Homo sapiens: one gene and its partners. The protein of the gene in region 5 interacts with the protein of the main gene of each other region in a biochemical or structural test. Each region holds a gene or a part of one and is shown on either strand. Other genes may lie near its edges. The genes, in order: SH3RF1, CTNNB1, TRIM24, MEF2D, AKT1, TRIT1 and CCDC88A.

Evidence for each region.
Region 1: of the proteins of AKT1 (region 5) and SH3RF1, one has a biochemical effect on the other in vitro, tested with the Homo sapiens proteins (one study listed by BioGRID and IntAct).
Region 2: of the proteins of AKT1 (region 5) and CTNNB1, one has a biochemical effect on the other in vitro, tested with the Homo sapiens proteins (2 studies listed by BioGRID).
Region 3: of the proteins of AKT1 (region 5) and TRIM24, one has a biochemical effect on the other in vitro, tested with the Homo sapiens proteins (one study listed by BioGRID).
Region 4: of the proteins of AKT1 (region 5) and MEF2D, one has a biochemical effect on the other in vitro, tested with the Homo sapiens proteins (one large-scale study listed by BioGRID).
Region 6: of the proteins of AKT1 (region 5) and TRIT1, one has a biochemical effect on the other in vitro, tested with the Homo sapiens proteins (one large-scale study listed by BioGRID).
Region 7: the proteins of AKT1 (region 5) and CCDC88A form a complex in vitro, tested with the Homo sapiens proteins (2 studies listed by BioGRID, with this or other methods).

What each region holds. Positions count from the first base shown.
Region 1 is NC_000004.12:169,096,858-169,099,956, forward strand, and holds part of SH3RF1 (E3 ubiquitin-protein ligase SH3RF1), read right to left. Parts: intron 1-3,099. UniProt on the Homo sapiens protein: Has E3 ubiquitin-protein ligase activity. In the absence of an external substrate, it can catalyze self-ubiquitination. Stimulates ubiquitination of potassium channel KCNJ1, enhancing it's dynamin-dependent and clathrin-independent endocytosis.
Region 2 is NC_000003.12:41,227,005-41,230,504, reverse strand, and holds part of CTNNB1 (catenin beta-1), read right to left. Parts: intron 3,298-3,500; coding exon 3,153-3,297; intron 1-3,152. UniProt on the Homo sapiens protein: Key downstream component of the canonical Wnt signaling pathway.
Region 3 is NC_000007.14:138,568,259-138,571,758, reverse strand, and holds part of TRIM24 (transcription intermediary factor 1-alpha), read right to left. Parts: intron 930-3,500; coding exon 756-929; intron 1-755. UniProt on the Homo sapiens protein: Transcriptional coactivator that interacts with numerous nuclear receptors and coactivators and modulates the transcription of target genes.
Region 4 is NC_000001.11:156,497,976-156,502,201, forward strand, and holds the start of MEF2D (myocyte-specific enhancer factor 2D), read right to left. Parts: upstream 2,801-4,226; 5' UTR 2,511-2,800; intron 1,906-2,510; exon of another isoform or gene 1,457-1,905; intron 126-1,456; exon of another isoform or gene 1-125. UniProt on the Homo sapiens protein: Transcriptional activator which binds specifically to the MEF2 element, 5'-YTA[AT](4)TAR-3', found in numerous muscle-specific, growth factor- and stress-induced genes.
Region 5 is NC_000014.9:104,785,749-104,789,248, forward strand, and holds part of AKT1 (RAC-alpha serine/threonine-protein kinase), read right to left. Parts: intron 1-3,500. UniProt on the Homo sapiens protein: AKT1 is one of 3 closely related serine/threonine-protein kinases (AKT1, AKT2 and AKT3) called the AKT kinase, and which regulate many processes including metabolism, proliferation, cell survival, growth and angiogenesis.
Region 6 is NC_000001.11:39,852,505-39,856,004, forward strand, and holds part of TRIT1 (tRNA dimethylallyltransferase isoform 1 precursor), read right to left. Parts: intron 1,565-3,500; coding exon 1,466-1,564; intron 448-1,465; exon of another isoform or gene 373-447; coding exon 227-372; intron 1-226. UniProt on the Homo sapiens protein: Catalyzes the transfer of a dimethylallyl group onto the adenine at position 37 of both cytosolic and mitochondrial tRNAs, leading to the formation of N6-(dimethylallyl)adenosine (i6A37).
Region 7 is NC_000002.12:55,332,857-55,336,356, forward strand, and holds part of CCDC88A (girdin), read right to left. Parts: intron 2,309-3,500; coding exon 1,238-2,308; intron 1-1,237. UniProt on the Homo sapiens protein: Bifunctional modulator of guanine nucleotide-binding proteins (G proteins). Acts as a non-receptor guanine nucleotide exchange factor which binds to and activates guanine nucleotide-binding protein G(i) alpha subunits.

The DNA of each region.
Region 1 (3,099 bases), on a different chromosome or scaffold from region 5:
TAACAAAGACTGGATTTGGATATGTGTGTCAACCCACTACTGATGGCCCAGACTGGTTCATCTGAGTGACCTTAACAAGGACAGCCATCCTTGTTCCCTACCAGTGTTTGTATCTTGGCCATAAAGGAGAGTTTCATTTCATTTCCCGAGAGGGGTATCATTTCTATCCCTCCCTCTTCTCCAAGGAAACAGGAGTGAATTTATTTGATTGGTGAGACTGGGAGAAGTAGCTGAGCAGGGGGGGTTCAGTCCTCTCTGAACCGCCTGCCCACAGGCTAAGGAGGCTCTGCTCCACCTCTATGTTGTAAGCACACAGAGGTCAGGAAGGTGAGTCTGGAAGTCTGTCTCTGTGTCCCTACGTCCCTTACACTGGTGTTTGACATGGGCGAGGCAGCAATTCTGAGGAAGGTAATCTGCCCCACATACCCAGATTATCCCTTGGGAAGGTAGTCCCAAGGTCCAGACATGGAGGGGAGGGCTATGGCCACAAGTTCAATCCAACATTACCAGTAACGAGGTTGACATTCTCATCTCTATTATTCTGACATTTGGGTCTGTTTCTCCTTGGCTCAGAATTTGGAGTTAGTGGGAAAGGTGTCATTATCGCTTAAAAATGGCAGAAGCTTAGTTGGTTTAATATTATCTGTGCCCCTGCCTCCATGCTCCTTAGCCTTCCTGTGCAGAATTACAGCTTGTAGGAAACGAGAGGGAGGTGACTTGTTTTACACTCTATATCCTTTTATCTTTCTCTATTTTTCCAGCATTATTTGCATTACTCCTCTTCTCAACAAAAGGGGGGAAAAGAATGGTGGTGTATGGTAGCCAACCTCCAAGATGGCCCTAGTGATCCTTGCTTCCTGGTATTCACACTCTTGTGTAGTCTCCTCCTATGATGCACAGGATGACCTGTGTGGCCAATAAAATGTTGCAGAAATGACAGTGGGTGATTTCTGAGGCTAGATCATAAAAGGCATTATGGCTTCCACTTTACTTTCTCTTGGATCGGTCACTCAGGAAAACTGGCTGCCATGTTGTGAGGACACTCAACATCTCTATGGAGAGGAAACACATGGTAAGGCACTGAGGCCTCTTTCCAAAAGCCTAAACTAACCAGAAAAAGTGATGTGAATAAGCCATCTTAGAAGGGGATCCTCCAGCCCCAGTTGAGCATCAGCTCAGGCTGATGTCTTGACTACAATCTCAAGAAATACTCTAAGCCAGAACCAACCAGATGAGCTGTTCCATAATTATGTGACCCACAGAAAGTGTGAAATAATACATGCTTATTATTGTTTTAAGCCACTGACTTTTGGGCGTAACTGGTTACATGGCAACAGATATCTAATAAATACATCTTTCACTGTTTGATGCTAAGTAATGAGTAGTCAGTCATAAAGTTGATTTTGGGTTTCTACTTTCATTTGGTTCTCAAAGTCAGAAAATGAGTGTATAGCCTCGTGGGACCCACTCCTGACTGAAAGTGAAAAATATTATGGCTTCAAAATGATAGGCAGAACAAATTCTATACAACTGTCCCCAAACTTCTGAAACCTATTACAGCCTGCCCCTTTCACCAATTCCCATTCCATATAAACCAAAATCCATTTAAGAAAGACCACAGCAAGAGTCCCAGACTATTACACTAAAAAAACACATCTCTGCAAAAGGTAAGTGGCTGCTTGAACAACCTGAGCTCCTTTGGCACAGGGACCAAATTACTACCCAAGATCTGAAGCAAAAGCACAGCACAGAAGTTGGCTTATCATATCTGAGAAAGGTTCAGCTAATTCAAACATGAATATTCATAGACCACAAGGCTGGGGTTTGATCAAGCATGGAATGAGGAAGGAAGCATGACACAGCGGGAGAAACACTGGCCTAAGGATTGACACAGTCTTTAAGGTCAGTTAGAGCAGCTTAACTTTGGGCCAGTTATCTCAGCTCTCAGTCTGTTTCCTCATCTGTAGAATAGGACTGTAATGAGTTAAACAAGTATGATGCTCTTCGTATGGTGTCTGACAAAGAGTTCAACCTGAAAATATTAGCTCCCATTATGATCATATGGCTTAGACAAGAGTAGGCAGAGGCCTGGCACTTCAAGGAGGTGAAGAATGGGCCAGTCAGTGGCTGGACATCTCTAACTAGGAAACGAACTCAGGCCACAACTCAGGCCTCATTTCCTGAAAATGAGATTTGACAAACTTTAGATCAACACAGTTAGGGTTTTGGAATCCCTTCTTTGATATCTTTATTTTGAGACGGTCTTACTTTGTTGCCCAGGCTGGTGTGCAGTGATGCAATCACAGCTCACTGTAGCCTTGACCTCCCAGGCTTAACTGATCTTCCTACCTCAGCCTTCCGGCTGGGACTACAGGTGTGTGCCACCAAACCTGGTTAATCTTTTTACTTTTTGTAGGGATGGCATCTCACTATATTGCCCAGGCTGGTCTTGAACTCCTTGGCTCAAGCAATCTTCCAGCCTCAGCCCCAGAAAGTGCTGGGATTATAGACATAAGCCGCTATGCCCAGCTCTCTGACACCTTTAAAAGCAAGACAAATAATTTCATCATGAATTTATCTGAAAGAAGGATCCAGATGACATTTCTCAAGTCTAATGTCAACATGCTAAAAATCCATGAAAAAGCAATGATGTAGTTGCCATGTGGGGCAAGTTAAACATTTAAGGCAAAGCTTTATAATTCTGGGAAAAAATGTACAAGTGACTCAAAACATATTCAGAGTAGACTTCTCATGAGATATATTCCCTACTTGTTCTCTGTGAGCTGCCTTAAAGGTGAAATGGAATAAAAATGGTTATTGAAAAACTTGAAGTGAATTAGATTAATATATGCATTTTATAAAATGCACTAAACCAATTTTGTCAAAAAAAAATTTTGAACTAGAACTGCTGCTGGGCTAAGAACATACTCTTCCTGCCAAGTTCCCAGTGGGAGCAAATTTTCATTGCTAAGTTTTATAAACCTCTGGGGGGGCGGGTGGAATGAGAAACTATGTGCATAATGGAAACTGTGACACAGTCTTGATCGTATGAAGACTACCAGGTGCAGGAGTAATAGACTCTACTTAGAAATCTTCCAG
Region 2 (3,500 bases), on a different chromosome or scaffold from region 5:
TACTATGTGCCTATTCCATTTCTTAAAATACATTAGATGCTATTTTCAGAATAAACAAATGAACATAAGAATAACCTGGAAGAACTTAAAGATTCCTAAGCTTCCAGTCCCATACATGTCCAGCTATCTACAGACCTCCCTGTCACTTCAAATAAAACACTATGAGATCTTGATATAAAAATTAACACTCCAGGGATTCTGATTAAATAAATCTCAAAATCTGTATTTTTAGCCTACATTACAGGTTACTGCTGGAACAGCTGACAGAATTTACATCCCATCCCCTCATTCTATATGAACTCAGCCACATTTGTCTATCCCCAAGACTATGGTTCCTCTGCCAGTAGTTACCTGGAGCAATCATAATGTCTTTCTCTCTCATAAATTCCCAAGTAAAATTACTCTCAATAAGTGAGAAAAGTAAGTGTTGCCAGCCCTATACTTTATTCCCAACATTTTCTTCCATTAAATGCCTTTATATTTTTCCTTCTTTCAATACTGATTTGAAGCTTGCTTTGAAATTCTGAGTAAATGTTGTTAGGTGGGTTACTGAAAGGAGAAAAAATGCTTGGTAGCTAAAAAGTAACTGTTTTCATGACACACACACACACACACACACACACACACAGAACCCAAGAGGCCCTAGTACAAACCATCTATTCTTTTCCCCAATTGCCAACATACACAATATACAAAGTACCACATATAAGTTGCCTTCTTAAAAATACTCAGAATAGAAAAAAATTGTTTCTCATACTTAGACGACATCTATTCACTGAGAATACAGAATATCAGGGCAAAACACTGCTCATAATCAGGCAAGAGAAAGAAAATGCATCCAAATAGGAAGTCTGTTTGCAAACAATATGATTCTATACCTAGAAAACCCCATAATCTCTGCCCAAAAGCTCCTTGATCCAATAAACTTCAGCAAAGTTTCAGGATATAAAAATCAATGTACAAAAGTCAGAAGCATTTCTAGACACCAACAACATCCAAGCTGCAAGCCAAATCAAGAATGCAATCCCATTTACCAAAGCCACAAAAAGAATAAAATACCTAGGAATACAACTAACCAGGGAGGTGAAAGATCTCTACAATGAGAATTACAAAAAACACTGCTCAAAGAAATCAGAGATGACACCAACAAATGAAAAAACATTCTATTTCATGGCAGGAAGAATCAATATTGTTAAAATGGCCATACAGCCCAAAGCAATTCACAGATTCAATGCTATTCCTACCAAACTACCAATGGCATTCTTCACATAATTAAAAAAAAACTATTTAAAAATTCATATGAACCCAAAAAAGAGCCTGAATAGCCAAGGCAATCCTAAGCAAAAAGAACAAAACTGGAGGAATCACTTTACCCAACTTCAAGCTATACTGTTAATACAAGGTTACAATCACAGCATGGTACTGGTATACAAACAGACACAGAGACCAATGGAACAGAAAAGAAAGCCCAGAAGTTAGGCCGCACACCTAACAAGTAAACAAAAACAAGCAATGGGGAAAGGACTCCCTATTCAATAAATGGTGCTGGGATAACTGGCTAGCCACATCCAAGATTGAAACTGCACCCCATCCTTACATGATGTACAAAAATCAACTCAGAATGGATTAAAGACTTAAATATAAAACTTAAAACTGTAAAAACTCTGCAAGATAACCTAGGAAATACCATTCTGGACATAAGACCTGGCAAAGATTTCATGACGAAGATGCCAAGAGAAGTTGCAACAAAAACAAAAACTGACAAATGGGACAGTATAAAGAGCTTCTGCGCAGCAAAAGAAATCAACAGAGTAAACAGACAACCTACAGAATGGGAGAAAGTACTGGCATGGGAGAAAGTACTGGCAAACTATGCATCTGACAAAGGTCTAATATCCAGAGTTTACAATAAACTTAAATTAACAAGCAAAAAAGAACAACCCCATTAAAAAGTGGGCAAAGGACATGAACAGACACTTTTCAAAAGAAGACATACAAGTGGCCAAGAAACATATGAAGAAAAGCTCGACATCACTGATCATTAGAGAAATGCAAATCAAAACCACAATGAGATACCGTCTCACACCAGTTAGAATGGCTACTAATAAAAAGTCAAAAAATGACAGATGCTGGTGAGGTTGCTGAGAAAAGAGAATGCTTATACACTGCTGGTGGGAAAGTAAATTAGTTCAGCCATTGTGGAAAGCAATTTGGTGATTTCTCAAAAAACCTGACAGAATTACCATTCAATCCAGCAATCCTATTATTAGGTATATGCCCAAAGAAAAAGAAATCTTTTTACCATAAAGACACATGCATGCATATGTTCACTGCAGCATTATTCACAATAGCAAAGATATGGAATTAACCTAAATGCCCATCAATGGTAGACTAGATAAAGAAAATGTGGTACATATATACTATGGAATACTAAGCAGCCATAAAAAAATACCAAGATGTCTTCCTCAGCAACATGGATGGAGCTGGAGGCCATTATCCTAAGCAAACTAACATAGGAATAGAAAACCAAATACCACATGTTCTCACTTATAAGTGGGAGGTAAACACTGAGTACACACGGGCACAAAGAAGGGAACAACAGACACTGGGGCCTACTTACGGGTGGGAGGTAAAGAACTGAAAAACTACCTATTGGGTACAATACTTACTGCCTGGGTGACAAAATAATCTGCACACGAAACCCCTGTGACATGCAATTTACCTATATAACAAGCCTGCACATTACCCGGAACCTAAAAGTTAAAACAAAACAAAAACTGCTCATGAGCATCTACTAATAAAGCAATCACTTTACATAAAACTGTACTATATTAGAATTTGTCTTTTCTCCTATAAATTCACAGCTCTGTTAGCAAATCTTAGGTTTACTCAAAACTGAAATTACAAACAAATTTTATTAAGCAAAACATATGCCATCATTTTTGATGGATAATAAGAACTCTACCTAAACTAGCCTTAAATATTTAGCTACAATCCAGATGACAGGTACTCTGAATGTAAATCTTGGCTGCAAACTGAATAGGACCATTTATTTTCAGTAGTTAAAGTTCTACCACCTTTTCCTAAGAAAAGTAATCTAATTAGAACTGCAGATGCTATACACAAGACTCAGAATAGATACATATACTTACCAGCTTCTACAATAGCCGGCTTATTACTAGAGCAGACAGATAGCACCTTCAGCACTCTGCTTGTGGTCCACAGTAGTTTTTCGTAAGTATAGGTCCTCATTATATTTACTAAAGCTTGGGGTCCACCACTAGCCAGTATGATGAGCTAGAAAGATATATATATATATCTTGTTAGTCAAGGAATCTTGATCACATGTCTGAGAAGAGCCATATTACCAACCTATTTTATTATACAAGAATTTCAGCCAGCTTGCCATTGGACCTAAATGTATTCCTGGACCCCATCACTCAGACCCCCATACTGGGGCCCTATCCAACTTGTCCTTTTAAAGCATTCCACTCAAATTC
Region 3 (3,500 bases), on a different chromosome or scaffold from region 5:
CCATCTCTATTAAAAATAAAAATCATTTAAAAATATAATAAATAACAAAAAGTCATACTGACAAAGAGTTTGGAGAGTGAGTTAATTTACATGTAGTATAAACCAGAGGTAATTTTGCACTTGTCAGTATGATCTAACAGGATTTCTATTATTAAACTTGTCTTCATCTCTTCTGATGTCCAGCCATTCAACGTCCCAGCATATCTTTCCATGTCCTTACTTTTCTCCTTTCCCAGCTTAGATTCCATGATCCATCACCATAATCACTCATTTACAAACACCTTTAACTCCGGTGGCTTGAAAGACATTAGATTATGTGTCCAATGTTCATAATCTTTTTATTTTTACTACTGTTGTAATATTCTAAAGGATTAAAATTAACTTGTAAAAACAAACAACCTATAATCCAACAAATTCATGCCTTCTACCAGATCCAAATTCACTAACAATTTTCTTTCTTTGTTGAGACAGGGTCTCGCTCTGTTAGGCTAGAGTGCAGTGGCATGATCTCAGCTCACCACAGCCTCCGCCTCCCAAGTAGCTGGGATTACAGGCGTGTGCTATCATGCCTGGTTAATTTTTGTATTTTTTGGTAGAGACGGGGTTTCACCATGTTGGCCAGGCTAGTCTCGAACTCCTGACCTCAAGTAATCTGTCTGCCTCAGCCTCCCAAAGTGCTGGGATTACAGGAGTGAGCCACTGCACCCGGCCAACAGTTTTCAACAGAGGCTAGTATAAATTTTGTGTCTACTTACATCCGGAAGAGAGGGAAGATTATAAGACCCTCCCACTGGTGAGCTCAAATCGATCATAGGTGAACCAAAAGCCTTTCCATCATATCCTGCTGCACTAGTAATCGTGGGGCTGGAAGGAGTAGAGGATGTGCTGTTGGTAGTTGATGGGGTTCCCTGTCCACTGCTGATCTGCCACTACAGTAACAAGAAGAGAAGAACAAAGGCTATCAACAAGCTTATAAAATACAACATCTATGTAATCACTCACACAAAATGAAGTAGAAGAGTTCAACTGTAATTTACATGGAAGGAGAATGGGACAGCAAAAGACTGCACAAGTATATATAATTTTCATTAATCTTGTCAAAAAAAAAAAAAAACCAAAACAGTAAAAAGCACTGATTTTTACTGGAAGACAACAGTTAGTATATACCAGAAAATCACAGTACCCAATCTTGGCAGGTTTATACATATTGGAAAAAAAATGTAAATATATACATAGCAACTTCAAGGTAAAGATGGAGGGTTGAAAACATACATTTCTTCTATCCCTATCTGAAATACTTGAAAATACTAAGCTACAGACTGGTACTTTCAGGATTTTATATTCCTCTTCTCATATATGAACAGATAATTAGGCCTCGATAAATATCTGAGGAAAGTACTATCATTCCTGCTGAGATAAACACATTAAGATGATGATAGGCATGCTGAAGTATATAGAGGTGAAGCATGCTGCTGTCTGGAATTTACTCAAAACCTATTGAAAAACATGATGGGCTGGGCATGGTGGCTCATGCCTGTAATCGCAGCACTTTGGGAGCCCAAGGTGGGTGGATAACTTGAGGTCAAGAGTTCAAGACCACCCTGGCCAACATGGTGAAACTCCATCTCTACTAAAACACAAAAATTAACCGGGCGTGGTGGTGGGCACCTGTAATCCCAGCTACTTGGGAGGCTGTGGCAGGAGAATCACTGGAACCCAGGAGGCAGAGGTTGCAGTGAGCCAAGATTGCACCAGTGCACTCCAGCCTGGGCTACAGAGAGAGAGATTCTGCCTCAAAAAAAAAAAAAAAAAGGATGACTTGATGAATGGACAAAGGAATAGATAAACATGTAATAAGGCAAGTAGAACAAAATGTTCCCTATATAATTCTTTCAATTTTTATTATGTTTGAAAATTTTCATGCTGGAAGAAGGAAAGTAACTAAGTGTACTGCAAGATGCCGTATTTTCCAAACATGGTCATTCACAAATGAACAGCACTATATAAAATGTCTGAAACATTCCAATTTTGAAAAACCTAATTTATATATTCCATTGTAGAAACTACATACAGAAACATATGAAGTTGGACATGAATGTCTTCTTTACCACCTACTCCTCCCTCATATTCCCCACCTCTATGCCCCCTTTCCTCCTCCTCTACCAAGAACAATCAGTTGGTGGATCGTTTCAGGTTTTTTTCTATGTACATGATGAGGCTGGAGGAAAACACACATACAAATGAGATAACACCTCACAAAAATTCTATAACATGCTTTTCCTCACGTACTCAGAAAATCATATCTAGATTACTGCATTTTCTTAATATCTGAAAAGTATTCCACTGTATGAGTATACTCTAATTTGTTAAACTCATCTACTACTTAAAAGCAATTTCCCAGTAGATTTTTTCCTGGCTTGTTCCTTTACTTATTCATTCATGTTTACATTTTTGGTCAACAACCATTTTAAAAAAACATGCTTAGAGTATCTACTCATTAAAATACAATAAATAGGGAAGAGGTAAACATTTGAATACTGAGCATGTGCTAGGTGCTTGTATATACATTAGAATAAACTCTCAACATAACTCTGCAAGATACGCATTTTATAGCTGAGGCAAGGGAGATGCGAAAAGACTACGTAAGTGCCACAAAATTATTAGGAAAATAAGTAGAATTTAAGGCCAAACTGAAGCTTGGGTCCTTTTTACTTTCCTTCTAATGATGAAATAATAGGTATGAATTTTATTTTAAATAATTAAAATATTGTTTAAGAGAATTTGGTGATGATATAGCAAAGGCAAATTGATTATACGAAGATATGTATAGACACAGAGTGTACATACTTTTAGAATAAAATATTAAAATGATTTTATTAAAATGGATGTTATAGAATTATGAAAATTGCATCATCTTTATTTTGGTCTTGGAGAAACCAAAATCAGTCTACAATCAGCTAGACAGGCTGTTGTCATAGGAGCTTTGAGAAGAAAAAACACTGTGATAACTTTAAGATAATGTAAAACACAGAAAATATTTTTACCTGAAGACACTAAGTATATAAATAATACAGCCGGGTATGGTGGCCCACACCTGTAATCCCAGCACTTTGGGAGGCTGAGGCGGGCATATCACTTGAGGCCAGGAGTTCGAGACTAGCCTGGCCAACATGGTGAAACCCTGTCTCTACTAAAAATACAAAAATTAGCCAGGCATGGTAGTGGGCGCCTGTAATCCCAGCTACTCTGGAGGCTGAGGCAGGAAAATTGCTTGAACCCGGAAGGCAGAGGTTGCAGTGAGCTGAGATCATGCCACTGTACTCTAGCCTGAGTGACAGAGAGAGACTTTAAAAAAAAAAAAAAAAAAAAAAAAAAAAAAGGAGGCCAGGTACGGTGGCTTACGAGTTTAGGAGATTGAGACCATCCTGGCTAACACGGTGAAACCCAGTCTCTACTAAAAATACAAAAAAAATTAGCTGGGCGTGGTGGCGAGTACCTGT
Region 4 (4,226 bases), on a different chromosome or scaffold from region 5:
CAAGGCCTCCTCGGGGGCCAAGGCACCTCCCACTCCAAGCTTCCTTACTACTGCTCCTTTAGCTCCCCCCAACCTGAAGAGTCTCCCTCTGGCTTCTCTTCCCTATCACATCTCCCAGGAAAGATTAAAAAAAAAAAAAAAAAAAAAAAAAACCCTGCTACAGAGAGATTATATAACAGCAGCCAGAAAGACTATCATATCTCCCAGCCTATGAGAAGAACCAGGAGCCAAGGGGGCAGAGCCAGGATGCCCAGGCCCTCCAGCCCAGGGGCACCAAGCACAGAGTGGGGTGGACACGGACAGCACCTGCCACCCCTCCAAGTCCTCCACCAATCTTTCAGGCATTGAGTACAGCAGACAGAAGCTCTAGCCAATTCCCCATGCCCATCCCCCAACACAAGGATCATGAGGCTCTCTGGGTCCTGCTTCTTCCCTTGGACTGGGGCTTCCATGAACACGGACTGTATGTCTCCCTTCCCAGAATCCCTCCCTACTATGAAGTTGTGCCTAAAAGAGTGGAAAGACGAAAGCTCTGACACAGATTTGCTGTGTGATCTCAGGTAAAAAACTCAACCTTTTGGGTCCCTACAGGGGTGAGTAAAAGCTCCTCCCTTCCTCCCTTCCCCCCTCCCCCCCTTCCCCCCAGAGAGACCAGAGACCTCTCCCTTTACAAATGTACATGCACACACATACATATACACACATATGCAAACATACAGGGTGTGTTGGCGGGGGCAGGGGAGTTACAACAAAGAGAATATAATCACTGAGACCCAAAGGTCCAAATGCCTATGCTGGGGCAAGTGGGGAAGGAGCTCCATATAAGCTCCAGTGTCCCCCAATCACCCCGTATAAAGAGGTCCTCAGCCACTCCCACAATAGTCCTACCCCACCCCCATCTCCTGCCCAACACACTGGGAAACCACAGGAAGGAAATTCATTCCCAGGCAGGGCCGTGGGAGCTGGGACAGCCAGACTAAGTCCTGGGGCGGGTGTGACCCCGTGGCCACAAGCGGGTGGACATCTGTGAACACTGACATGTGCCTTTTCAATGCTCTCCTCAGCTACTGAGACCTTCCTGTTGGGGTTGGGAGAGGAGTGGGAGGTGGACAGCTCCCAAACGCCAAAACACCCAATCTCAGGCTGACCTGCGCTCCCCTCCTATCTCCAGGCCAGAGCAGCCCAAGGTCACCGCCCCAGACGGCAAACTTCCCATAGTCTAGGCTGGACCCTGAATTGCTGCGGAGACCCACTGAAGGGATAGGAGGAGGAGTGGATAAGGGCCACCTCCACCCCAAAGCAAAGAAACCAGGACTCTGAGGAAAACTCAAATGGGGGTTGGGCACAGCAAAGAGGGACACAGGATCCCCCCCAACCCGCTATACCCTCCCCCAACCCATCAACAATGCACCAAGCAATGGGAGGCAGAGGGAGGCTCCCATTCAGAAGGGCAAACCTGGGATAACCCGGTCGGTGGCTTCTAGAGTGCCTTCCTTTCAGGAGGAGTCCTCGGAAGGCTGCTGAGAGGACAGCGTGATTCACTAGGGGGAGGGGGCCCCTTTCCCCATCCCCCTAAGACCCGAACCTGGTAGGAGAGAAGCTGGCATTGGAGTGGGGGACTAAAAGCATTTTGGTCTCCTTGGCCCATCCTCCCAAAAGCCCCCCCAAACTCCCTAAACCCCCGCTCGCAGCCCAGCTCCGCCTGCCATAGGTGGAAAGGACTAGAGAACTCTTGCCCAGATGTTGAACAGCTGCAAACTTCTGGCCAGGGAGTTCTCCAGTTGGGGTTACTGACAAACCACATCAGGGGTCTCGGAAGCGGGGCTAGGAGGTCTCAAGGAAGGGTCCTGCGTGCCCACCTCGTGGCGACTCCGCGTCCCAACTCCACAGGCACCCGGCAAACACGGGCCCCGGAGACACACACACTCACACACCCCAACCCACTACCCCGGTGTCATCTGAACAACATCCCCCCTCCCTCCCCCGCTTCCCAAACAGCTGCGGCTCCCCCCGCCTCCACCCTCCCGCCGCCCTCCCAGGCCCCCTTCTGCACCATTTCGGGCCAAGGAGGAGGGAACAGGCGGCGAGAGGAGGGAGAGGGAGGGAGGGCCGGCTGTTAAAATGTCAGTCGCTCCCGACTGTCACCGGAGACCCCCTCGGAGGATGGCGCCCCGTCCCAGACCGCTCGGAGGCCGTCGTAAACCCCCTACACGAACAGGCGGGCGCGCCCCCAATCCGCCCGTCCCCACCCCGTACTCCCAACACCCAAGGGAATTGCAGCCCACTCCACTTGTCCCCCACGACAGACTCCCTGACACAAACAGTCCCCTAGGTAATCCCCGCCAACGCCACACGAAAACACGGCCCGCTTCGCGAGTTCCTCCCGGCCCGGGGGCTGCCCCATCCCACCCCTCAGGGGGACGGTCTAGACCACCCTCCACCCCAACCCCTGGACCGGGTGGGGGAGGGGGCCTCTTAAAGTGGCAGGCGCATTATTTTTCTCTACTCACCAGCCCGGCTGGGGGAACGGTGTTGTCACGGCAAAGAGCGGGTAGCCCTCGCCCCTGGTCCGGGGGATCTTCAACACCGGGAAGCCGCAGCTCCGGGCGGGGAGAATAATAAATGAGGCCGGCGTCCGCGCGGGCCCTGGGCGGCGCCGTGAGGCCTGGGCCCCCGTCGTGGGCGCGGGGGCCAGCAGGCGGGCGGCAGGCAAGCGGGGAACCGGGGCCGAGCGCCTGAGCCGCCTCGGCTGTTGTTGATATTTTGCTTCCTTCCTCCTTTCGGGCTCCAAAGGTAACTCCTCCAGCCCCCGGGAGTCGAGGCCGACGTAGGCACAGCTCAGCCTAGCTTGAGGGGTGGGGGGAAAGGGGTGACGGACAGGCGTGGGGGCCAATGGGAGGCACCTGTGGGGGTGGCGGGGCGGAGCCGGGGCTGGGGCGGTCCCGAGGACGCGGCCCCGCCCCTCGCTTCCCCAGGGCTGGCCGGGCCAGGCCGGGTCGGCCCCCACCCCACCGCCCTCCCAAGCTAGGCTGCGGCGCTGGGAGCGGCGGATCCCTCCGCCTGCCGGGAGGGAGGGAGGAAGGGACGAAGCGAGGCAAAGTAGGGAGGCGAGACCCAGAGGCCTTTAAAGGGATCGGTCCGCTCCCACGGTGCCCCTCGGAGCACGCCGGCCGCCCGCCCGCCCGCCTGGCGCTGCTGCCACCGCGTGCTCCAGGAGGTCCTTTCCGGGGAGGCCGTGCGAGCTGCACGCACACTCTCAACACGCGCCACCTCGGCACCTCCTCGCGGCCCCGGGCCCCAGGAGAGTTGGGAGGTGGGAGTCTAAGTAGATAAATTAAGGGGAGACTGGAAGTGGTGAAAAGCTCCCATCTCCCCCACTTGGTGTGTGACAAAGCCCCACTCACGGGCGACATTCTTGGGGTTGGGGGGTGTTACCTAGGGAGCTCAGTTGCTCCCTCTACCTGTGACAGGCCCCCTCCGGTCCCAGGGCCCGGCTCGGCAGACGCCCAGCAATTTAAAGCGACAGCTCATAGTTCTTGGGTGACCTAATCTCCAGTGCTTGCGGGGCCCCACAGCACTTACTGCCGAGGGGGCAATTTAAAGGGGCGGGACCCTAATTCCTCCCCACCTCCCGCCGCACAGTAAACACCCAGAAATGTCTTATTAAAGAAGCAGTAGTAGCTCTTTAAAATTTTTTATTTTTATATTCCTGGTTGCTCCAGGGTGTGGTGAATATTTACGTGCCCTACAACAGGAGTGTGGGTGCCATGCCTACTGGACAACTGACCCGTCAGGCTTCAGCATCCCTGTTACTTCCAAGTCCTGCTGCTTTCTCCCAAGAGCGTAAGGAAATGATGGCATCTGGCTTAGATCTCAAAGAACCTTGCAGAACAGAAGGGCACTCACTCAGTTCTTCACACACCCCGAATTTTTTTTTTTTTTTTTTTGAGACGGAGTCTTTCTTCGTCGCCCAGGCTGGAGTGCAGTGGCGCGATCTTGGCTCACTGCAACTTCCGCCTCCCAGGTTCAAGCGATTCTCCTGCCTCGCCTCCCCTCCCGCCTCCCGAATAGCTGGGACGACAGGCGCACGCCCCCACGCCCGGCTAATTTTTTGTGTTTTAGTGGAGATGGGATTTCACCGTGTTACCCAGGCTGGTCTCGAACTCCTGAGCTCAAGCAATCCGCCCGCCTCGGCCTTCCAAAGTGCTAGGATTACAGGCGTGAGC
Region 5 (3,500 bases):
TGGAGCAGGCCTCAGCCCGACACACACACCCCGGGAGGAACATGGTGCGGGCAGGCGGCACCACCATGACCCCGTCCACCTCGCTGAGGCACAGCCGGAGGCGCTGGGGCCTCTCTTCCTGCCACTCCAGGGAAGCACCTGGGTCTCAGCTTTCCATTCTCCTGGGGCTCTACTGGGTGGGGTACTGGGCCTCCCTGGTGCTGCCCCTGACAGACCACCTGGGCCTGGATGTCCTCCCCCACAGGCACTGCCCGTCACCCACCCCTCGGGCCGGCAAAGGCACCCCACCTGCCACACACCCATCCATCGCAGAGCCCAGCACATCCCAAGACCCTGTCCCTGTCCCTGTCCCCCACCTCATTTTTGGTCTGCCCCAAACAAGCCCCACCCATGTCATGGCCCACCCTGCCTACTCAGGACCCCTGCAGATGAGGCTGCAGCCCCTCCCTGGCGCCTCCTACTCTGCCCCCGCCCACTCTCCCCATAACTTGCAGCAGGCTTTGCCAAGTGCCCTCCACCCAGTGGGTTCCCAGGGCCCTCACCCTCGCTCCCTGCGTGGGAGGAAGCTGGGCATGGGGACAGCACACAGTGCCTGCTGCGAGGGAGGGCTGGCCACAGTGTCCCACGTGTAGACACTGCCCTCGGGAAAGGAAGTGGGCACGGGCACAGGCTCCTTCCGGGGCTCGGCCGGGGGCACGCAGCCATGCCCACAGCCCCTCCCTCCTCCCGTCTCTCTTGGGCAGGGCCCCTGGCGGTTGAAGGGCTCCAGTGCTGGCCTCTCAATCCCTGACACCCCAGGAAAAGTGCCCTGCATTGCTGGGGGAACTGGAACCAGGCAGTAGGGACCTCGTCCTCCACACCGACCATGGGAAGCACCCGCCACAGAGGGGCCTTCCATCTCCCCACCATCTTGTTTCTGCCCCAACTTGGAGCCACGCCTGGGGCAGGAGGGCCCCCAGAGCACGGCCAGCTGTGGAGGGTGCTCCTTCTGATCCCCCGGCCTGCTGGGACATTGTGGCCCTGACCCCCGTGGCCTCACCCCACACCTCACCAAGCTTGTGCAGCTCAGCGTCTCCGCGCCCTACACCTGGCTGCTGTGCCCCTGGCCCCAGTCTGTGGGGAGGCCAGCCAGACCCTGGCCAGCCGAAGGGCCTCTCTGCATTCTCCAGGCCCAGGGAGCAGCCACCTCCCCGCCAGGCCTGCCCAGGGGGTGTCTCCACCCCTGAGCTGGACAACCAGCTGAGGGCCTGGGCAGGTGGGCCCGCCAGGTTACAGGGTATGGGTGGGGTCTGCAGTCACCGGGCCCGCCTGGGGGGTGTGTGAGCCCAAACACAGCGCCCCAAGGATCCCACCCCAAAGCCCGCAACATTGGCAGCAGAGTCACCCATGAACTCCCAACCCCCTCAATTCCAACGTTTCTGAAATCCAAACCTATCATTCCTTAAGGTTCAAGGAAAACACACCTAAAGGCGGCATGGCAGGGAAGGGAACTCCCGTTGGAGATGAGGAAGTAAGGGGCCTAGGGTTCGCCTAACAGCCCCATCCTGGCCTGGAGCCCCAGGGCCCTCTGCCAACCTGCCCGGGGCCCCAGCGCTGGGCTGGGGGAACCTTCTCCTGAGGCCATGGGACTAGGCACAATGGTCCAAGCAGACAGAAGCAGCAGGCAGCTGCCCACCCAGGGTGGCCTGGGGAGCAGGCCCAGAGCCACAGCCACAGCCACCAGTCTCAGCTATGGGAGGGCCCGAGGGCAGGGTGCTGGCCCCAAGCCGGGCCGGGTGTGCCCAGGCAGAGGGGACGCCAGCGGGGGCCGCGCCAGTTCCCTCCGCTCAGCCTCGTGCAGGACTTCTAGGAACCCGGCCTGATGCAACCCGGCCAGGCTTCTCCTGAGAGTGGAAGGTGTACGGGGGTCTAGGCCCCAGCACAGGAATCATTCCACCCACATTCTGTCCACTCTCCTGGGCCTCAGTTTCCCTTCCCGGAGTCCAGCCCCCCACAGGGCATCCCTGCCCAGAGAGGGCCAGTGACCAAGAAACACACAGGAAGAAGAGCTGTCCACTCAGGAGCCACCAGGCGTGGGGGCTAAGGTCCAGGGCTGGGGCCAGCAGTGACCCCTCACCCCCACTCAAGGCCACCTCGGCTTCCTCTTTTGTTGTTTTTGAAGTGAGAACTCAACAAGCTCCCAAAACAGGAACCTCCCTGATGCTGGCGGCCTCCACCACAGCCATGCCATGACCTCCACCAGCCTGTGCCTCCTGCCCCTCTCCCGGGTAGGCCCAGGGCTGTTGGGACCCCCACTCTCTGCCCAGCCCTCCCACCAGGAGCCAGCACACTTGCCTCCCCATCTCTGTCCCTGGCCTGCCCACGGGGGCCGTTCCAGACCCTCAACGCTCCCCCAGGGGAGGCAGAGCTTGGCACTAACCAGCCCAGGGCCCGCGGGTCTCACACTGAAGCCACCTAGACGCAGCCTGGGGTTGACCCTCACCTGACAGCCTGGGAAAAACTGAGGCCCAGGAGGCACAGGCAGCCCTGGCCTGGAGCCCAAAGGTTCCCACAGGCTGAGGGGAGAGTCTGCGGGCTCCCTCCCTCAGGGTCCTGCTGGGCCCCTCATCCTGGCGGGGTAATGAGCAGCCTCCATCTGCACACAAACAATTAGCCCTGCGGGGCCCTCCGCAGCAGCTGCTCTCTGGAGTGGGCTCAGAGTCCCCCACAGACCTCTTCTCAAGGGTGTTTACTCAGCAAAGCCAAGGCCTCCTCCAGGATGAAGGGGAGTGGCCTGTACCCTCTGAGGTCCCCCACCTCACGCAGGGACCCCAGGACCAGCTGGATGGCTGAGCAGCAGCTGGGGATGCAGTGAGGTTCTATGTCGCTCACCAAAGCGAAGTAACACACTGGGGTAGGAACCACTCTCTCCCTGCCTCAGTGCCCCCCCGCAGGGACAGCCAGTGCCAGGACTTCAAGGCGGGGAGAGGGGGTGGGAAGGAGGCCCAGCCTAGGCACCTGCTTGGGGTCAGAGACCAGCCTCCATACTCCCCACCGGGACGCCTGGGGCTAACTCAGCAGGAGTGGTGAGGGGGCTGCCCTGAGGCCTGGACTGGGGGGTCTATGCCAGGCATGGGCCCGGGGTAGGGCATGGCAAGGACTCAGATGTCCGGAGACTGGACCCTCCGTGAGCCGCATGGACACACGGTCCCGTGTCACCCGGGCCCGGCCAGGCACCCAGATCCGTGGCTTGGACACGCTGCCCACACACTCAGGAGCGTCTGCCGCGTAACCCACGCGCCCCAGGCAGCTTCCCTCGACCCCCGCCCACTCGGCCTTGGCCTGCTGGGTCACAGCCTGCCGAAGGCAGCCAGGCCTGCAGCTCTTCCCCGGCCCCTCTCGGACAGCGACCAGCCTGAGGGAGTCCAGGTGGTGCCCCTGCGGCCGGCACCCACTCCTGGCCTAGGCCCAGCCCTTTCTCGAGAGCCCAGAGCACCTCATCCTGGGTCCCAGCATCCCGG
Region 6 (3,500 bases), on a different chromosome or scaffold from region 5:
GATATTGTACTATGCATTTAAAATGTAACAAAGTAGGCTGCAATTATTTATTGAGGGAGTTGAACTGAAGCAATAACTCAGGGCCTCCCAACCTGCTGAGCTAGAACAACACATCAATCTCCACTAACTGCTATTACCAAATCTCTCTCATCATCTGGGCAAACTGAAGAACTGACTGCTCTCTAGTTGTAAAGGAATTTGGGGTCAGCGCGCCAGGCTTTCTTACCTGGCCACTTTGCGTTTGTCATGTGGATGCAGCTTGGCAGCCATTTCTGGGTCCACCTGGCTTAGGCGTTTGTGAAGTACAAGACCATCCTCCTTTTCAAGCTCCACTTTTCGGTCAATCACTTTCTCAGTGCCCATCTCCTGGGGCTATTAAATGATGGTTTAGAAGTATATTTAATTCAACCAACACTGAGACAGTGTATGTGCCAGGCACTTTGCTAACTGTCAGGAATACAGAATAATCAGAAGATCTTGCCATATAGTGAGAGATCATAAACAGAAAATTCCAATATGCTGTGGTAAGTGCTATGAGGCCACAGCAAACAAAAAAGACAGAAGACTTACAGCATAGGGAAACACCTGGCTATTTGCTTCCCTGTCAGAAGTTCAAACAGGTACCAGGGCTAATATGTCTATTTTAGCATATCCAGGAGTCTAGTCTTCTCAGCAAGGGTGAACAAGGAGACCAGGATTGCCAGTGAATTACAGTTTACACAGTCTTACCCTACATAGTAGCACCTACGTAAATAAGGTCAGTGTTGGACATCTCCCTAATATACATACTGTGCTGCCAGCCAGGAAATACTGAATCAGGCTAATGGCTAACGTACTGGGTTTTTTTTAATATAATTTTTCTAAAGAATTATACATATTTTTTTCTTGAATCGCATCTGTTTTTTTTTTTGAGACAGGGTCTCGCTCTGTTGCCCAGGCTGGAGTACAGTGGCGCAATCTCAGCTCACTGCAACCTCCGCCTCAAGCCTCAAGTGATCCTCCCACCTCAGCCTCCCTAGTAGCTGGGATTACAGGTGCGTGCCACCATGCCTGGCTAATTTTTGTATTTTTAGTAGAGACGGGGTTTAGTAGAGATGGGGTTTCACCATGTTGGCCAGGCTGGTCTCGAACTCCTGACCTCAGGTGAGCCACCCACCTTGGCCTCCCAAAGTGCTGGGATTACAGGTGTGAGCCACCACGCCTGGCCTAATGAACTGTTAATTTATATGGAGATGCTAATTAATCCACACAGCAACATTTTTCCCACACAGAGCCCCTTCCCATAGACCAGCCTGGAGGAACACACTTCACACATGGAGGTGGCATTTGCTTGAGAATATTAAGTAGGAAAATTATAGTTGCTGGGTATAAGAAATAGGCAAGAGTCAACCTTTCTCCCACTGAAATTAGACAGCAAGAAAGAGCAATCCATTTCCTCAGTGAGTTACGAGTGAACTAAACTTACCTTGGTATTGACAAGAACTTTCCAGAGCAGAGATTCAATGTAATAATTGGTTCCTCCCACAACAATAGGAATTTTGTCTCGGGCAAATATATCTTCAATGTGAACATTAAGAAAGATATCACGATATCAAGAGAATCCTGACTCACTTTGGAAGGACACCATTAGCAAGAAACCACATTCATTTATCTGCAGAGCAGAGGAGAAAGGGTGGGAACCAAAATGCGTTGATACCAGCCCTCAGTGTTTCCAACAAATTTCCAGAATCATGTCCAATCAGTTCTGGAGGGACTTGCAGAAACCAGAGACAAATGCATAGTGGTAATTCCTTCCAGTTCTAGAACTTTCTAGGTCTTGCTGCTAAAAGTCAAAGTTTTATTAGTATTCCAAATCAGTTCAATAAGCACAAGCCCAAGGACTCTCACAGAACCAAGTGTCAGCTGCTCAGGAGGCCATCAAGGTGACATCCATTGCATGACTTTGCCTTCTAAGGCAAAACACAAGCTGGTTTCTCTAAGGTTCTTAGACTTAGTCAGTCTCTACCATCATGGAGAGACTATCACATTTTGCCACTTGAGGCTTGACCAAATTAAGTGAGATGCACAGGTTCTGAAGATAAATAGACTTCAATTTCCAGGTTCAGCTCTTGGACAATTACTCAGCCTGTCTGAGTTTCAGTTTTCTCACCTGTAAAAATCCCCATGAGCCTTAAATGTGACAATTCATAGAAATCCCCTATCACAATGCCTAAAAAATAGTAAGCACTCAATTTACTATAGCCACTATTGTTTTTTCATCTCTGCTACTTTAAATTTTTCTCTTTAGAATCTCCGTTGAACAGATAATTATCTGCTTTAAGGCGGCCTTTGCTCCTGAGAATAATTTTTTTTTTTGAGACAGGGTCTCACTCTGTCACCAAGACTGGAGTGTAGTGGCGCGAAAACAGTTCACTGCAGCCTCAACCTCCCAGGGCTCGAGTCATCCTCCCACCTCAGCTCCCGCCACCAAGTAGCTGGGACTACAAGCACATGCCACCACATCTGGCTAATTTTTGTATTTTTTGTAGAGGTAAGGTTTCACGATGTTACTTGCCCAGGCTGATCTTGAACTCCTGAGCTCAAGCAATCCATCCACTGCAGCATCCCAAAGTGCTGAGGTTACAGGCGATAGCCATCGTGCCTGGCCGAAAATAACTTTTTTTAAAAGACTTTCAATATCCAGGTAAATAATCATTTACACATTTCTCCTTGCCAGCCAATCTGCAGGCATAGAGACAGACCACCTCTTTTCTACTAGAATCCCACTAACCCTTAAGCGGCTAAGGCAGGGTGGGAAGAAAGATGTTACCAATCAAGGATCATAAAGAAAAAACACTGTTTGCTTTAAAAAGAGAAAACAAATTCTCTATTTCCCCCTTTAAATTAAGTATAGGGAGCATACAATTTCCACAGTAAGATAAAATGTCAATTATACACAAGTTAAATATCCCTTATCCAAAATACTTGGGACCAAGGAAATGTTTCAGATTTTGAATTATTTGCATTATACTTACTGGTTGAGCATCCCAAACCTGAAAATCTGAAAACTGAAATGCTCCAATGAGCATTTCCTTTGAGCATCATCTCAGCACTCCAAAAGTTTCAGATTTTGGAGTATTTTGGATTTTAGATTTTCAGATGTTCAACCTGTAGTATGATTAACAAAGGGAAAGTGAGCAAAGAAATGAAAAGGGGAAGGGAAAAATGTTAAGATTCCAGAAGAGGAGAGAGTGGAAAGAGGAAAGAAGATGGGATAGGACATACTTCACGGGAAAAGGTTTAACTTATTTGTGCAAGCCATGAAATGACTGTGATATTGAGCAAACACCCTTCTACTCTTTGGGCCTCAGTATCTAGTACCTTCACCTGTCGAATCAAGAAGGCTGATTGGGGCCAGGCGTGGTGGCTCACACTTGTAATTCCAGCACTTTGGGAGGCCGAGGCAGTAGGACCACTTGAGCCCAGGGGTTCAAGACCAGCTTGTCAACATAGCAAAATCC
Region 7 (3,500 bases), on a different chromosome or scaffold from region 5:
CCTAGTTGAAATAACTTTTTTCCTTTTTTTTGCTAATACTTTAAACAAAACCTTAAAAGGGAGTAGTAACTCTTTACTTGTGAATACACATTTAGGTTTGAAAACTGGGGAAAATCATATCCATTTACTTTTTAATAATGAGCCTGAACTTTAGTGCACATTTCTTCTTATAAATATATGTTGACTATAATACTTCTCTCCCACAAGATCCCTTCTCCCAGTGAAAGAGGCCCTATGATACTGATCTGAAGAACTAGAGGATGTTCTTAGAAGTTTAGGCACAAGGAACTTGTTGTTCATGTTTATAAGTCTACAGAAGAAAAAAATAAAAGGTCCCTCTCAATGCTTCTTTAGCAGAAATGCAGACTGCCCAATGTGACCTTCTGCCAGAATGCTAATATACTTTTAAATTGAACTTAAAGGGTTATCACATATTATAATGCTTAGAGATGGGAAAAAAAGAGCCAAACATATACCTTCTGACTTGCATCAACCATGTTTCACAGGACATACTGCCAATTTACTCCTGTAAGTTTCAGAATTCTTCTTGATACATAGATTCAAGCAAATACTAGTTGCTCAGTGTTGAATGGTTGAACCTGATTTGCATTCTCTGGCTTTGAGGTCAAAATTCATGGGGCTTTGGAGTCTGAAAAATCTGGATTTGAATCCAGTAATCCAACTCTGCTATTTATTAGCTGTGTGATCCTAATTTATTTAATGTTTCTGAACCTCAGTTTTCTCATCTAAAAAATGGATATAATACTTATAAAGGATTAGTTGTAAAGATTATGTGCATGTATATATGTGTGTATATATATTTGGGTGTGTGTGTATATATTATTTATGTATATACAACTTATATGAAGTTTTTAGCCCAGTACTTGGCACACAGCACTCAATAAATAGTAGCTATCATGCTTCTTTATTATACTTAGAATTTAGTGTCTTGATCAAACATTATTATATTGAAATAAAGGTTTAAAATTATAATGTAATAAGTCAGATACCACTAGGAAACTTTATTACTACAAATTCTTTTAAAAATACAATTTATAGGTATTTCTTAGTTTAACAAAGTAGGAAACTTGGAAGCTATTTCTAGTTCTAATTCCAAAATTCTACTGAACCATAAAATAAATGATGCAAATTACTGATAGATTCCAATAAAACTTAAAGAAACCTTGAGTTAAAAATATAAAAAAAAATTTGCCTTAATTTAGGTAAACATATTTACCTCACGTAGTGTAACCAACGTTTTTATATCAATAGTTGCTCTTTTCACAAGCTCCTTATTTTCTTTTTCTAGTTCTTTCAGACGGACACAAGATTCTTTATATATACCAATTTCTTTGGATAGGGTTTTGTTTTCTTTTTCCAAATTTCCAATCTTCACATTATTTTCTTCTAATGTGGTATCTTTAATTTCTGCTTGTTGTCGGAGTCTCTTATTTTCCTTCTCCAATTGTTTCTTATCCTTTTCCAGTTGAGAAGTCTCTTGCTCTAATGATTTATTTTCTTTTTCCAGCTGTTCTAGTCTTTTGCTAGATATTTTTAGTTCTTCTAGGTTTTTCTGCAATGTTTGATTTTCCATCTCTAAGTCTTGTAGTTCACTCTCTAATTGCTGGATTTTTTTATTGCTGTTCTCTAAAGTTTTTTGCAGTCTTTGATTTTCTATATCTAAACCCTGGTAGCTAACTTCTAAGCGTTCTGTTTTCTTGAAAGATGCTTTCAGGAGCTCCAAACCCTTCTTAAGTTGCTCTTTTTCACTTTCCAGTTCTTTGTTTTCTAGCTGTAGCTGAGCCATTTTCATGCTTGCACACTTCAAAGATTCTACATTCCTTCGCAGTTCTAAGTTTTCCTCATCAAGTTGGGAATTCTCTTTTTCTAGGGATTCTAACTGAAAGGTCAGATTTTTAAAGCTATCCAATGTTTTTTTTAATTTTCTATTTTCTCTTTCTAGCTCTGAATTTTCTTGTTCTAAGGCCTCAATTTTTTCACAAGTAATTTTTAAATTAGTTATTTTTTTCTGTAATAATTCATTTTCTTTTTCAAGATGATGCAATTCATTTTCAAGTTCTTCAGCTCGTTCTCCTTTTTCTTTATAATGTTCCAATTCTTTTTTAATTTGTCTTTTTTCAAATTCAATCTTGCTTAGCTTGCTACTTGTTTCTTTGATAGATTCATGAAGAATTTTGTTTTCTTTTTCAATGTCTTTCACTCTTGCTTCTGCACTTATCTGGGACCGCTGCCTTAAGGAAGACACTGTTTGATTCAGATGTTCATTTTCCTGTTCCAGTATCTTAATCTAATTTGAAAAGAAAATAATTAAAAGCTGTAATTGAGGAAAAACTAACTATGGTTTATCTCTTCCAAAAACTACCAAGAAAAGGGGAACAAAAAAAGGGTGCTAGAACATGTCTTACTTTTAATTCTGACAAGTATTTACTGAAGACCACTGTGTACACTTACTGTGAGGTCATTTACTGAAGACCACTGTGTACACTTACTGTGAGGTCATTAAAGTTCATGTTTTTAGGAAGTTCACAGTTTAAAGGAACGGTTGAGAAATGTATTTTCTATTAATCATAATGGTCTTCAGATTATTTACAGTTACATGCTTCAAATTCAAATAGGAATACAGGTAACACACACACATACCTCCTTGAGAACATAAGGTTCTACTTTTACTAAGTAACCTTTGCAATGCCTACAGTGGGTCCTCAGTAAATATGTGCTGTATTACATGTGTATATATGGGTTTGTATGTGTGTGTATTCATTCCCAAAAAGAATTCTAAGTAGGAAGCATCAAAATCACAAAAATCACTGGGTACATTTGGGAACTAATTCATCCAATTTATAGCGTGATCTAATACAATGATTCTCAAAATTTAGTGTGTTAAATAATCTCAACAAGCTTGGAAAAATGAAGATTGAAGCTTAGTCTAGAATTTTGGTTCTGTATCTCTAAAGAAACCTTCATTTTTATGGCTGGTCTGAGGACTGTACCTGGATGATATAAACAAATAATTTAACTTCTAAAAAAATTAATGCTCAAGCATGGTGGCTGGCACCTATAATCCTAGCACTTCGGGAGGCTGAGGCAGGAATATCACTTCAGCTCAGGGGTTTGAGACCAGCCTGGGGAGCATAGTGATACTTTGTCTCTACCAAAAAATAAAAAAAAAAATTAAAAAATTATCTGGGCATGGTGGTGCATGCCTGTAGTCCCAGCTAAGGTGAAAGGATTGCTTGAGCCTAGGTGTTCGAGGTTGCAGTAAGCTATGATTGTGCCACTGCACTCCAGCATGAGTGACAGAGCTGGACCCTGTCTCAAATAAATAAATATTTCAAAAATAAGTCAATTAATCTATGCAGTTCTCAGTTTCCTCAAACATAAAATGAGAATGAACATTAAAGAGCTGAAAACAAATTTGGTAATATCCAAGACAGTGTGGTTGCCACCACATTTCTCCCTCTTTGGTAGGTCAGAGGACA